Regions from separate parts of the Homo sapiens genome. Here region 1 is linked to region 2. Evidence: fine-mapped expression QTL. A gene starts in region 2. The other region holds a variant in brackets. All regions are shown on one strand. Distances are between the middles of the regions. Region 1 overlaps SCPEP1 (serine carboxypeptidase 1). Region 2 holds the start of SCPEP1 (serine carboxypeptidase 1).

The links.
Region 1: its variant is fine-mapped to the expression of SCPEP1 in whole blood (TOPMed, PIP above 0.99).

The regions. Positions count from the first base shown.
Region 1 is chr17:57,006,653-57,012,032 of GRCh38, reverse strand. SCPEP1 (serine carboxypeptidase 1) reads right to left here. Exons shown (of 13, transcript NM_021626.3): 13 at 5,265-5,380. Among named protein-coding and RNA genes, the nearest start is that of SCPEP1, 31 kb to the right of the region's middle. RefSeq lists enhancers at 1,587-1,786, 1,423-2,052. The variant A/G (reference allele first, on the strand shown) is at 2,586.
Region 2 is chr17:56,975,474-56,980,853 of GRCh38, reverse strand. It overlaps SCPEP1 (serine carboxypeptidase 1), which reads right to left and starts at 2,723. Exons shown (of 13, transcript NM_021626.3): 1 at 2,619-2,723. The coding sequence starts at 2,694. LOC105371836 (a long non-coding RNA gene) reads right to left here. Exons shown (of 4, transcript XR_934875.4): 4 at 4,847-5,105. RefSeq lists a silencer at 2,781-2,840.

The sequences.
Region 1 (5,380 bases), 31 kb before region 2:
ACGGTGTGTGCGTGTTTGCATGTGCACAGCCGTGCGTATGGGGGAAGGTGTAACAGGGATTTGACTTATGCAGTGTGGAGCTGGTTAAGAAGTCTTCATAAGGCTTTTGTCTCCAAATCTGATGCTGGAGATTGAAGTACACAGGGCAAGCAGTCAGGAAGGAACAAGGAATGTAAAGTGGAGAAGGACAAGAACAATGTGAATCCCACAAGCAAGAGATGGAGTCCATGGGACTGAAACGCATGTCAGTTCTTGGGTCCCTCTTAGTGCTAAGCACACTCACCTGGCCCGGGAAGCAGACATGCTCTAGGAGGATCCGGGGGAAGGGGGAGCAGCTGAGCTCAGCTGAGCTGAGCCAGCAGAAAAACGATAACATGCATGAATGAAAAACTGTTGCTGCTTCACTTCACCCTCCACATTTTCCGAAGAATTTCTCTTGTGGGCCACCCTAATCAGAAACATACAAGAAAGGTAATTCTGAAAAAGTTAGCCTAGGCAAGTTGAAACATTACAAAAACACTACAGTCCACCCCTTGTCAACTTGGCACCCATAACATTGCCTTAAACCACACTTAATCTCCAAATAAAGTCAATAACAAAGTCATACTCTGCTTACCATGACACAACTGTCCTTCCTATACCCAGAAATACACATCTTTTTCCCCAGAAGAGAATCAGAGTCCACTTTTTGTCTTTGGATGATGCTCATTCTTTTACTAGCTGTTTCACATTCCTTCCTTGACATCTTGTAATATAAATATTTATATGTAAAGTTAGGTACAAGCATTTTGGGAGGCCAAGCTGCGAGGATTGCTTTAAGCCAGGAGTTGAAGACCAGCCTGGGTAACATAGCAACACCCTGTCTCAAAAAAAAAAAAAAAAAAAAAAAGCCAGGCACAATGGTATGCACCTGCAGTCACAGCTACCTGGGAGGATCGTTTGAGCCCAGGAGATTGAGGCTGCAGTGAGCCGTGATTGCACCACTGCACTGCAGCCTCGGTGACAGAGCAAGACCCTGTCTTAAAAAAGAAAAACAAAAAAGGTTAAATACTATTAGCACATCAGAGACGATAAAGGAATGAGAGATAAAAACAAAAATATTTGGTTCACCAGATGCAGCTGTGGCTTATGCCTGTAATCCCAGCATTTTGGGAGGCAGAGCATTTTGGGAGGCAGAGGCGGGCAGATCACTTGAGCCCAGGAGTTTCAGACTAGCCTGGGCAACATGGTAAAACTTCATCTCTACAAAAAATACAGAAATTAGCTGGGTATGGTGGTGCATGCCTGCAGTCCCAGCTACTGGGGGCGCTGAGGTGGGAGGATCACTTGAGCCCAGGGAGGTGGGGGGTGAAGGCTGCAGTGAGCTGTGATTGTGCCACTGCACTTCAGCCTGGTTGACAGAGCATAACCCTGTCTCAAAAAAAAAAGTTTTTTTGTTAATATTTATTAAAATAGATTCACATCAAAAGAAGAAAGAAATACTCATAATTATTACAGTCCTCGTTTCTACAGTGGGTCACAAGGTCATAGTACTTATGACTGCCCTCATCTATGATTTATTCTGCGTATCTTTTGCCCTCGGCAAGCACTTCAGTTGGTCGTGGCTTTTTGCCTGATGGAATGACTTAAATCTTTTGTGAAGGGTCTGGGCCATTAGCGGTCTTAATTGGGTTGTTGTAGCTCTCCATTGACCTTAATCACAGGATATGGCAGTACTAGGGGGTGCCCCAAAGGATCTCCTGCATTCTTCCTTCTTACGTCCATTGTGTAGGAGCAACCCCATTTCCTCTTGATAGTCAGATCAATCACTGCAGACAGCACTTTGCCTGTTGATGCAGTGCCCAAAGAGGCCAGATGGTGGCTTCAAGCTCCAGTTCCACGGATTATCTGCTGTGTCTCCTAGAGAAAACATTTCTCCCGTTGTAACTAAGACCTCTAGACCAGCAAAACCTAAAGTTGCAGGGATGGGAAGCAAAAATTCTACCACTGGATCACTAGGGTTAACAGTGAGAGGAGTCGCTTTCATTTTTATCCCTTGATAACTGGACTCATGAATCCTGGGTATGGGAGAAACAAGGCGGTTGATTTAGAGCATGTACCACATACTGGAGGGCAGCACCCCAGCCCTGCAATCTATCCCCTCCTAGCTGGCCCTGTAACTGAATTTTCAGTCATTCAACCATCTGTCAGGGCAGTTGCTTCAAGAGGATGGGGAACATGGTGAGAGCAGTCAATTCCACTTGTGTAAATTCACTGCTGCCTTTCATTTGCTGTGAATACCATAGTCATGGATGAGACACTCCGTAGGTCCACAGATGCTAGTTTTGGCAGAAGCATTGTGGGAAAGGAAGGCACATCTATGTCCAGAGCAAGGGTTAATTCCATTGAAAACACAGTGCTGCCTGCCTCATAATAAAAGTGGTCCAATGTAATCAGCCTAACACCAGGTAGCCGGCTGATCTCTTCAGCAGTGATGCCACATTAGGGGCTCAGTGTTGTTTCTTCTGCTGGCAGATGGGGCACTCAGCAGTGGCTGTGACCAGGTCACCCTTAGTAAGTGGAAGCACATGTTGCCAAGCCCATGC[A/G]TAGCCTCCATCCCCGCCGCCATGGCCACTTTGTTCATGAGTCTACAGGAATGGCTGAAGGAGGCTAATAGCCACAGAATGGGTCATCTACCCACCTGATTATTAAAATCTTCCCTTGCCCTAGTTGAGTATTCAGATGGAAAACAATGATCTTCATACTCGGCCATTCAGAGATCTAATCTCATACCTCTTCCTCAGAGCTTCTTGTCATCAATTTTCTAATCAAGTTTTTTTTCTTTTTGAGACAAGGTCTCACCCTGTCACTCAGGCTGGAGTACAAATATGGCTCGCTGTAGCCTCAACCAACCTGCCAGGCTCAAGTGATTCTCCTACCTCAGCCTCCTACACAGCTGAAACCACAGAGGTGCACCAACATGCTGAGTTAATGTTTTTATTTTCTGTAGATACAGGGTGTTATCATCTTGCTCAAGCTGGTCTTGAACTCCTGGACTCAAGGGATTCTCCCACCTCAGCCTCTCAAAGTGCTGGTATTATAGGCATGAACCACTGTGCCCAGCCTTCTAATCAAGTTTCTTCCAAGTCCCTAAATACCCAGCTAAATCATGAATTGGTGCACTTATTCTTCTGTTCATTTCCCCTTCCAGGGAAAGTGAAGAGCTGAGTGCACTGTTCCAAGTTCTGTCCACTGGGAGGATTTCTCTTCACACCATCTTTCAGGGCTGTCCTGGAGTGTGGCCGTGGTGCCATAGCGGTCCACATTCAGGTGATGCATGCATACTGTGGAGCCCCGTCTGTAAATCAAGCCTGAGAGTTGTCTTCCTTTGTCAACTGATCACAGGGATTCCCTAGGAAGGTAGGGGTGTGGGTTGAGAGAGAATGTTATACAGCAGGAATAAGAGCCCTGGGCAAGTCTAGGAATTTACTACAAGATCTTAGGACAAGACATGATTAACCTGCCCGGACAGCAATGGAAGGGCGGCTTCTAATGGCCAAAAAGGTTTGAGGTCCCCTAGCTTCATCTGTGCAGGTGACTCATCTCAATGTTCAGAATTACATTTCTTCTCAATCAATGCACTAACTTTTAACAGAAGAGACTCTGTGAGGTTGGGAATTCAACTTGCTTTATGATTCACTGCTTTGTTGGATGGTTCACCAAGACTCACAAGGCTCAGTAGCAGGTTATACTAATAGCTAACATTTTTGTAACAAAAGATGCATATCAAAAGCGGCAGGTAAAAACGATACACATGGGTGATGTCCAGGGGTATCCAGCACAGGCTTCTAAGGTTCTTGCTTTCCATGGGCACACTGGAGTTCTTGCCAACAGTGAACCATAGGGACATGTGTAGTCTCTGTCCCAGGAGCCTGTTTTTAGTCTCAGGGTCTGAAGGGGTTAGTCACGTAGACATAACCTGCTGTTAACTGTTTCCTCACAGTCTGCAGGAATAAGCTTTGGGTTTGTTATTTTTTTTAATTAATTAATTTATTTATTTATTTTTGGGACAGAGTCTTGCTCTGTTGCCCAGGCTGGAGTGCAGTGGCGCGATCTCGGCTCACTGCAAGCACTGCCTCCCGGGTTCACGCCATTCTCCTGCCTCAGCCTCCCAACTAGCTGGGACTACAGGTGCCCGCCACCACGCCTGGCTAATTTTGTGTGTGTGTGTGTGTAGAGATGGGGTTTCACCGTGTTAGCCAGGATGGTCTCGATCTCCTGACCTCGTGATCTGCCCGCCTTGGCCTCCCGAAGTGCTGGGATTACAGGCTGGAGCCACCGTGCCTGGCTGTTTTTTTAAATCTCAGCCTTTGGCCAGGCTTGGTGACTCATGCCTGTAATCCCAGCACTTTGGGAGCCCAAGGCAGGTGGATTGCTAGAGCCTGGGAGTTCGAGACCAGCCTGGGCCACATAGTGAGACTCCAACTCTACGAAAAAATTTTAAAAATTAGCTGGATGTGATGGTGCTTGCCTGTGGTACTAGCTACTTGGGAGGCTGGGGCAGGAGGATCATTTGAGGCATGATTGTGCCACTGCACTCTAGCCTGGGTCACAGAGTCTCAATAAATAAATAAATAAAATCTCAGCCCTGCAACTACAAGAGGTGATATTTCTTTCAGACAGTCCTAGAAGCTGTTAGATCCCCTATGCAGATTTTTTTTTCTTTTTGAGATGGGGTCTCTGTCACCCAGGCTGGAGTGAGTGGCTTGATCATGGCTCACTGCAACATCAACCTCCCTGGCTCAAGTGATCCTCCTGCCTCAGCCTCCTGAGTAGCTGGGACTACAGGTGTGTGCCACCATGCTCGGCTAATGTTTTTATTTTTTTTGTAGAAATGGGGTCTCCCTATGTTGCCCAGGCTGTTGTTGAACTCCTGGGCTCAAGCATTCCTCCTGCCTCGACCTCCCAAAGTGCTGGGTTTATAGGTGTGAGCCACGGCATCAAACCTCCTTATGTAGATCTTGAGCTATGAATAAAAAGTTAAAAGTCCTGAGCTAATTATTTTGATTTTAAGGAAATGTGGCAATCCTCTGACTAAATAATTACACTTTTATGAATTTATTCTAAGAAAATAAGGAGGTACAAAAAAATCTAACTATCAGGGTGAATCAACAGAGCACTATGTATAATAGCAACAAACTAGAAATTATTATACTTGTCGGAAACAACTGGGAATTTTGTAAATAAACTAGAGTACAACCATAAAGTAGAATGCTCCACAGCCATTAAAAATGTTAGAGAAGAACATTTATTGACATGAAAAGGTGTTTCAGATATACTGATATGTCAAACAAATAGTAAAACAACATAGAGTAATGATTCATTTTGGTAAAAAATATAT
Region 2 (5,380 bases):
TTTCTGTAATGTTTGGATTTTTAACAATAAATATGAAACACTTTTTTTTTTTTTTTTTTTTTTTTGATACGAAGTCTCGCTCTTGTTGCCCAGGCTGGAATGCAATGGCGCAATCTCGGCTCACCGCAACCTCTGCCTTCCGGGTTCAAGCGATTCTCCTGCCTCAGCCTTCCAAGTAGCTAGGATTACAGGCATGCACCACCACGCCTGGCTAATTTTGTATTTTTAGTAGAGATGGGGTTTCTCCATGTTGGTCAGGCTGGTCTCGCACTCCTGACCTCAGGTGATCTGCCCGCCTAGGCCTACCAAAGTGCTGGGATTACAGGAAATACTTTTATAATTCTGTAAAAACAAGAGAGATTTATATTTTGAGTAAAAAAGTAAAAATCTCAGAATGCAATATACTGGTTTTTATATCGTATTTAATACATGAGTAAGACACCAGGCTTGGTGGCTCACTCCTGTAATCCCAACACTTTGGAAGGCCAAGACAGGCTGATAGCTTGTGCATAGGAGTTCAAAACCAGTCTAAGCAACATAGCAACACCCCATCTCTACAAAAAATGCAAAAATTAGCTGGGCATTGTGGCATATGCCTGTGGTCCCAGCTACTCAGGAGACAGAGGTAGGAGAATCGCTTGAGCCCAGTAGGTTGAGGCTGCAGTGAGCTGTGATCACACCAGTGCACTCCAGCCTAGGTGACAGAGGGAGATCCTATCTCAAAAAAACAAAAAACCAACCAACCAAACAAACAAAAAACATGAGTGAAGAGGCATCACAAATTAGTGGGGCTGAGAATATTCAATATACAGTAATGGAGCAACAATTACCTTTTTTGGAGAAAAAAAGAGAAATTTAGGTCCTCTCAACACTATAAACGAAATAAGTTCCATGAGGATCAAGCAATTAAATTTTAAACTTTAAACATTAAAAAAATACAAAAATATAGTTAAATATATTTCTAATGTCTGGATGAGGAAAGAATCTAAGCAAACCCCAGAGACTGTACAAAAGAAACAATGATGGAGGTGAGAACAGAAACTTGTTATATTTCTATACAACAAAATTTCTGTAAATCAAAAATAAAAAGGCAAACAGCAAGGAAAGAGCTACAACAAATATGAAAAAGGGCAATTTTCCTAACTCATGTAGATGATTTTTTTAAACTGAACGATATATATCTGTGTATGTGTGTTTAATATACGTATCCTATAATCCCCTAACTCCAATTTTCCTTACTTAACTTTTCTAGCATCCACAAAATATGTTTTAGAAAAGAGTAGGCTAAATACATTTTCTTTGTCACTTTTTGCTAACGTAACAATTTCCAAGTTATAGCATCTTTTTTTTTTTCCTCCAAAACCACTCTGGGAAAAAAAAAAGTAGAGGGGCTGTTGTTAAAAGATGATGGGGGGGATCCCCTCGGTGACTGGAGTTTTCTGCCTTCTATTTCCTCCCTTCTCAAATTTCAAGCCCCATTGGTCAGTAAAAGAACACTGGTCCCAACAGCTAAAGAGACAGGAGTAGAGAGGAAGACAATGAGACAACGTCTTGTAAATAAGAAAGAGCCAGGGTGGTGGCCTGTGTCTGCAGTCCGGGCTACTTGGGATGCTGAAGTAGGAAGATCACTTGAGTCAGGCAGTTCCAGACCAGCCTGGGCAACATAGTGAGACCCTGACTCAAAACAAAACAACAATGAAGATTAAGAAAACCAGAAAGTGTCCTGAGGAGCAAAACAGATGACTAAAACATTACAGACTTAGCTATAAGGTTCTATATACAAGTAACACACGATTATATTGTCCTTGACAATAACAGATAAGGCTGCGCTCCCTTGAGAATGACAGATAAGGCGCAGGTACCTTTTGACCTAACCCCAGGCACTTCTCCCTTGCCTGGCAGTGACTACTGGTAAAATTGGCAGAGCTACTTATTTTACAAAATCTCCCAGACACTCGCCTAAGGGCCAGATGATCCCCATTTTAGAAAAGGAAAACAAAACTGTTCAACAACTTGCCTAAGGTCACAAGGCAAGCTTGTGGCCAGTTCCAATTCTCAGTGCTTGCTTCAGACTAGGAGAGGTTTTGCTGAAAATCAATTTGCAAGTCATCCTATTAAACACAAATCTGTTTTTTGCCAAAAAAGATCGCTGTGGGGGAAGATGTTATCTTGTTTGTTTTGATCAAGAAAAGAAAGGGCCTTATCTCAATGAAATGTCCCATTCGTGGTAGGATGTAAGGGTACTTTTGACCGCAGATTTCAGCTTAAAATAAAACGACCTTATATCCTCATTTAGCAGCCAATCATGGCCTTTGAATCGGGGAAACCTCATTGACCAGCAGTTTCCCCAAATCATACATTTCTGCACACAGCTTCTATCTAGGCGTAGGAGAGAACGGAAGCACTCAGACCACCCAGAGCCAGAAAAGGACAAAAAAAGCACTTTGAATTTTTTAAGGAAAAAAAAAAAAAAGAGTGAGATTCAAAAGCAATATAATTACACAAGGTAAGAACCGGGGAAAAGAGACATGTTTTCAAAAGCACAAACCCAGTAACAAACTCTCACGCCTGGAGAAAAAAGAGGCATGGCAGCTGGTGCGCCTCTTGCTTGAACCTACCTGCGTTCAGGCCCAGCAGCAGCGGCAGCAGCAGCAACCACCGCGGGACGGGAGAGCGCCGCAGTGCCAGCTCCATGACAAGTACCGCACGGCAGCATCAGCAACAGGCTGGACCCGGCGCCCCATCACGTGACGGAGGCGGACGGGGCGGGTCGGGGGCGGGGCCTGCGGGTCGGGGGCGGGGCCTGAATGGGCATGGGGCGGGGCCTGGGCGGACCCGGCAGCTTGCTGAGACCCGCACGCCCTCTGCCCGGCAAGCCCACCAGGACCCCTGCAAATGCGCAGGGGCCGTTCTGTCCGCCTGGCCAGGTTCTCTGTCATTTTAGGGAGAGTATTTCGGAAAGGAGACATTTGATGCAGATGTTGGATTTAGGTTGTGTGACCGGATCGAAATACTAAAGGGAATAACCACCGCCCTTTCTACCCCTCCCATCTCTTCCTTCCCTCAGCAAAAGAACCGACGTTTTCCAACACTGCTACATCTGCGAAGTCAGATTAAGCCAGCTGGTCGTTGGCAAACAGCGGGGTTTCATTTTCAGATATGTATTTTTTAAATTATTTTTCTTTTAAAGTTATGTATGTTATAAACGTTTTGGAAATATGAACAAAAAAGTTATACATAACTATTGTTGGCATTTTTTCCCATAGTCTTTTACGTCATTTTAAAAAACACTAATAAAGATTTTTATTTTTTTTTTCTTTTTTGATAATTTGTCATTAGTATTACTCTGTGTTACGTTATCTTCACAGCAGTCATTTTAAAGAGAGAATCGAGGGTCTGGGGACGGGAAAGGAAGAAAAAGTGGATGACAGAGCTGTTTTCCTCTGTGTGTGTGTGTGTGTGTGTGTGTGTGTCTGTCTGTCTGTCTGAAGGTCATTTTTACGTTAGAGGGTACTGAATAACTCACCTCACAGCTAGGAGACAAGCTACAGCAGGGGCTGTAGGAGAGGCTACTTCTAAATACTGCTTCAAAAGTACATGTAACAAAAAGCAAAAAACAAATCAAAGTACATGTGGCCACTTCTCCTCTTTCCCTGCTCCTTTCTCCCTCCCCTCGCCCTTGACCCCCATAAATGGAAGTGCTTTTTACTCTGCAGCCATTGTCTGGACAGAGCCTTGACCCCGCCCTGCCTGTGAGGTGCCCCTGCACTGAAAGCTGCGGCAGAGAAAAATATGCCGCCGGGTTCTGTCATGCTTTAAGCATGGGATGGTCCCGAATGCATAAAATCCATAATGCCTGGGCAACATATTGAGACCCCCTCTCTACAAAAAATAACAAAAATTAACTGATGTGGTGACACGCGCCTGCTGTCCAAGCTACTCAGAAGGCTGAGGTGGGAGGATCACTTGAGCCCAGGAGCTCCAGGCTGCAGTGAGCAGGTGTTCCATGCCATATGGGAGATACATAAAAGTACATGCTTAGTTAAAAATAAATAACTATCTAGCAAACTTTTCCTGTCTGAAGCTTCCAAGTTGGTCTGTATCACTAGGGCTTGAAATACACTTACCCTTCCACTGCAGTCAGAATTTTAGGGTTTCAATTTTTTTGCCACAAAAATAACACTACAGCCCAGGGCGCAAGGTGGCTCACACCTGTAATCCCAGCACTTTGGGAGGCCGAGGTGGGCAGATTACTTGAGGTCGGGGGTTTGAGACCAGCCTGGCCAACATAGTGAAACCCCATTTCTACAAAAATACAAAAATTAGCTGGGTGTGGTGGCACTTGCTTGTGGTCTTAACTACTCGGGAGGCTAAGGCATGAGAATCGCTTGAACCCAGGAGGTGGAGGTTGCAGTGAGCCAAGATGGTGCCACTGCACTCCAGCCTGGGTGACAGAGTAAGACCCCATCTCACACACGCACAAAAAAATTGTGCATTTTATAATACGCTAATATGACTTCAAAAGGAAAAAATATAAATAAAATGTCACCTCTAGTTAATGATATTCATATTAAAGTGTTTAGGGGAAGGTGTACCAATGTATACAATTTTCTTTGAAATGTATCCAGATGCTGGCACAGTGACCTATGCCTGTAATCCAGCTCTTTGGGAGACCAAGGTGGGATGATTGATTGAGCCTAGAAGTTTGAGACCAGCCTGGACAATATAGTGAGACCATGTCTCTTAAAAAAAAAAAAAGTATCCAGAATATAAGATGGATTGATGGATAGGATGGAAAGAAGGTTGGATACATGGATAAATACATGATATCAAGTATTACAGTAACATTTTCTTTTTTCATTACAGTTTATAATCACAGGAACAAAATAAACAAAAACCACATGTAGAAACCAGATTAAAGCTTGTTATCCTTACAGGCAGTGGCGAAATTCCAATCTTCAGGGTTGGAGTGGTCTTTGTTTAAGAAAAATACCTCCTTGGTTCATTGAAGTTAGGAGTTGGGAGCTGATGGCATAGTAGCTGCAGCCAAGGCAACAAAAGATAATTGCCAAACTGTGCGGCCCAGGAGAAATTTTGTTTTGCTCCTAGGAGAGGAAAGAAGAGAGAAAGATGAAAAGAAGTGAAGGCTACATATAGAGAAAGATTAGCCAAAGAGAGTTGAGGCTGGAAGAAGAGCCAGTAGAAATTTCTCCGATGAGGAGTGGCTATGTAATCCCCCAATGGGTTCTTTTTGCCTGCTGCCCAGATAGAGCCAGCCAATTTATGAAGGCAGGGGAATTGCAATGGGGAAACAGTTTAATTCATGCAGAGCTGGCTGAAAGGAAGACTGGAGTTTTATAATTACTCAAATCAGTCTCTG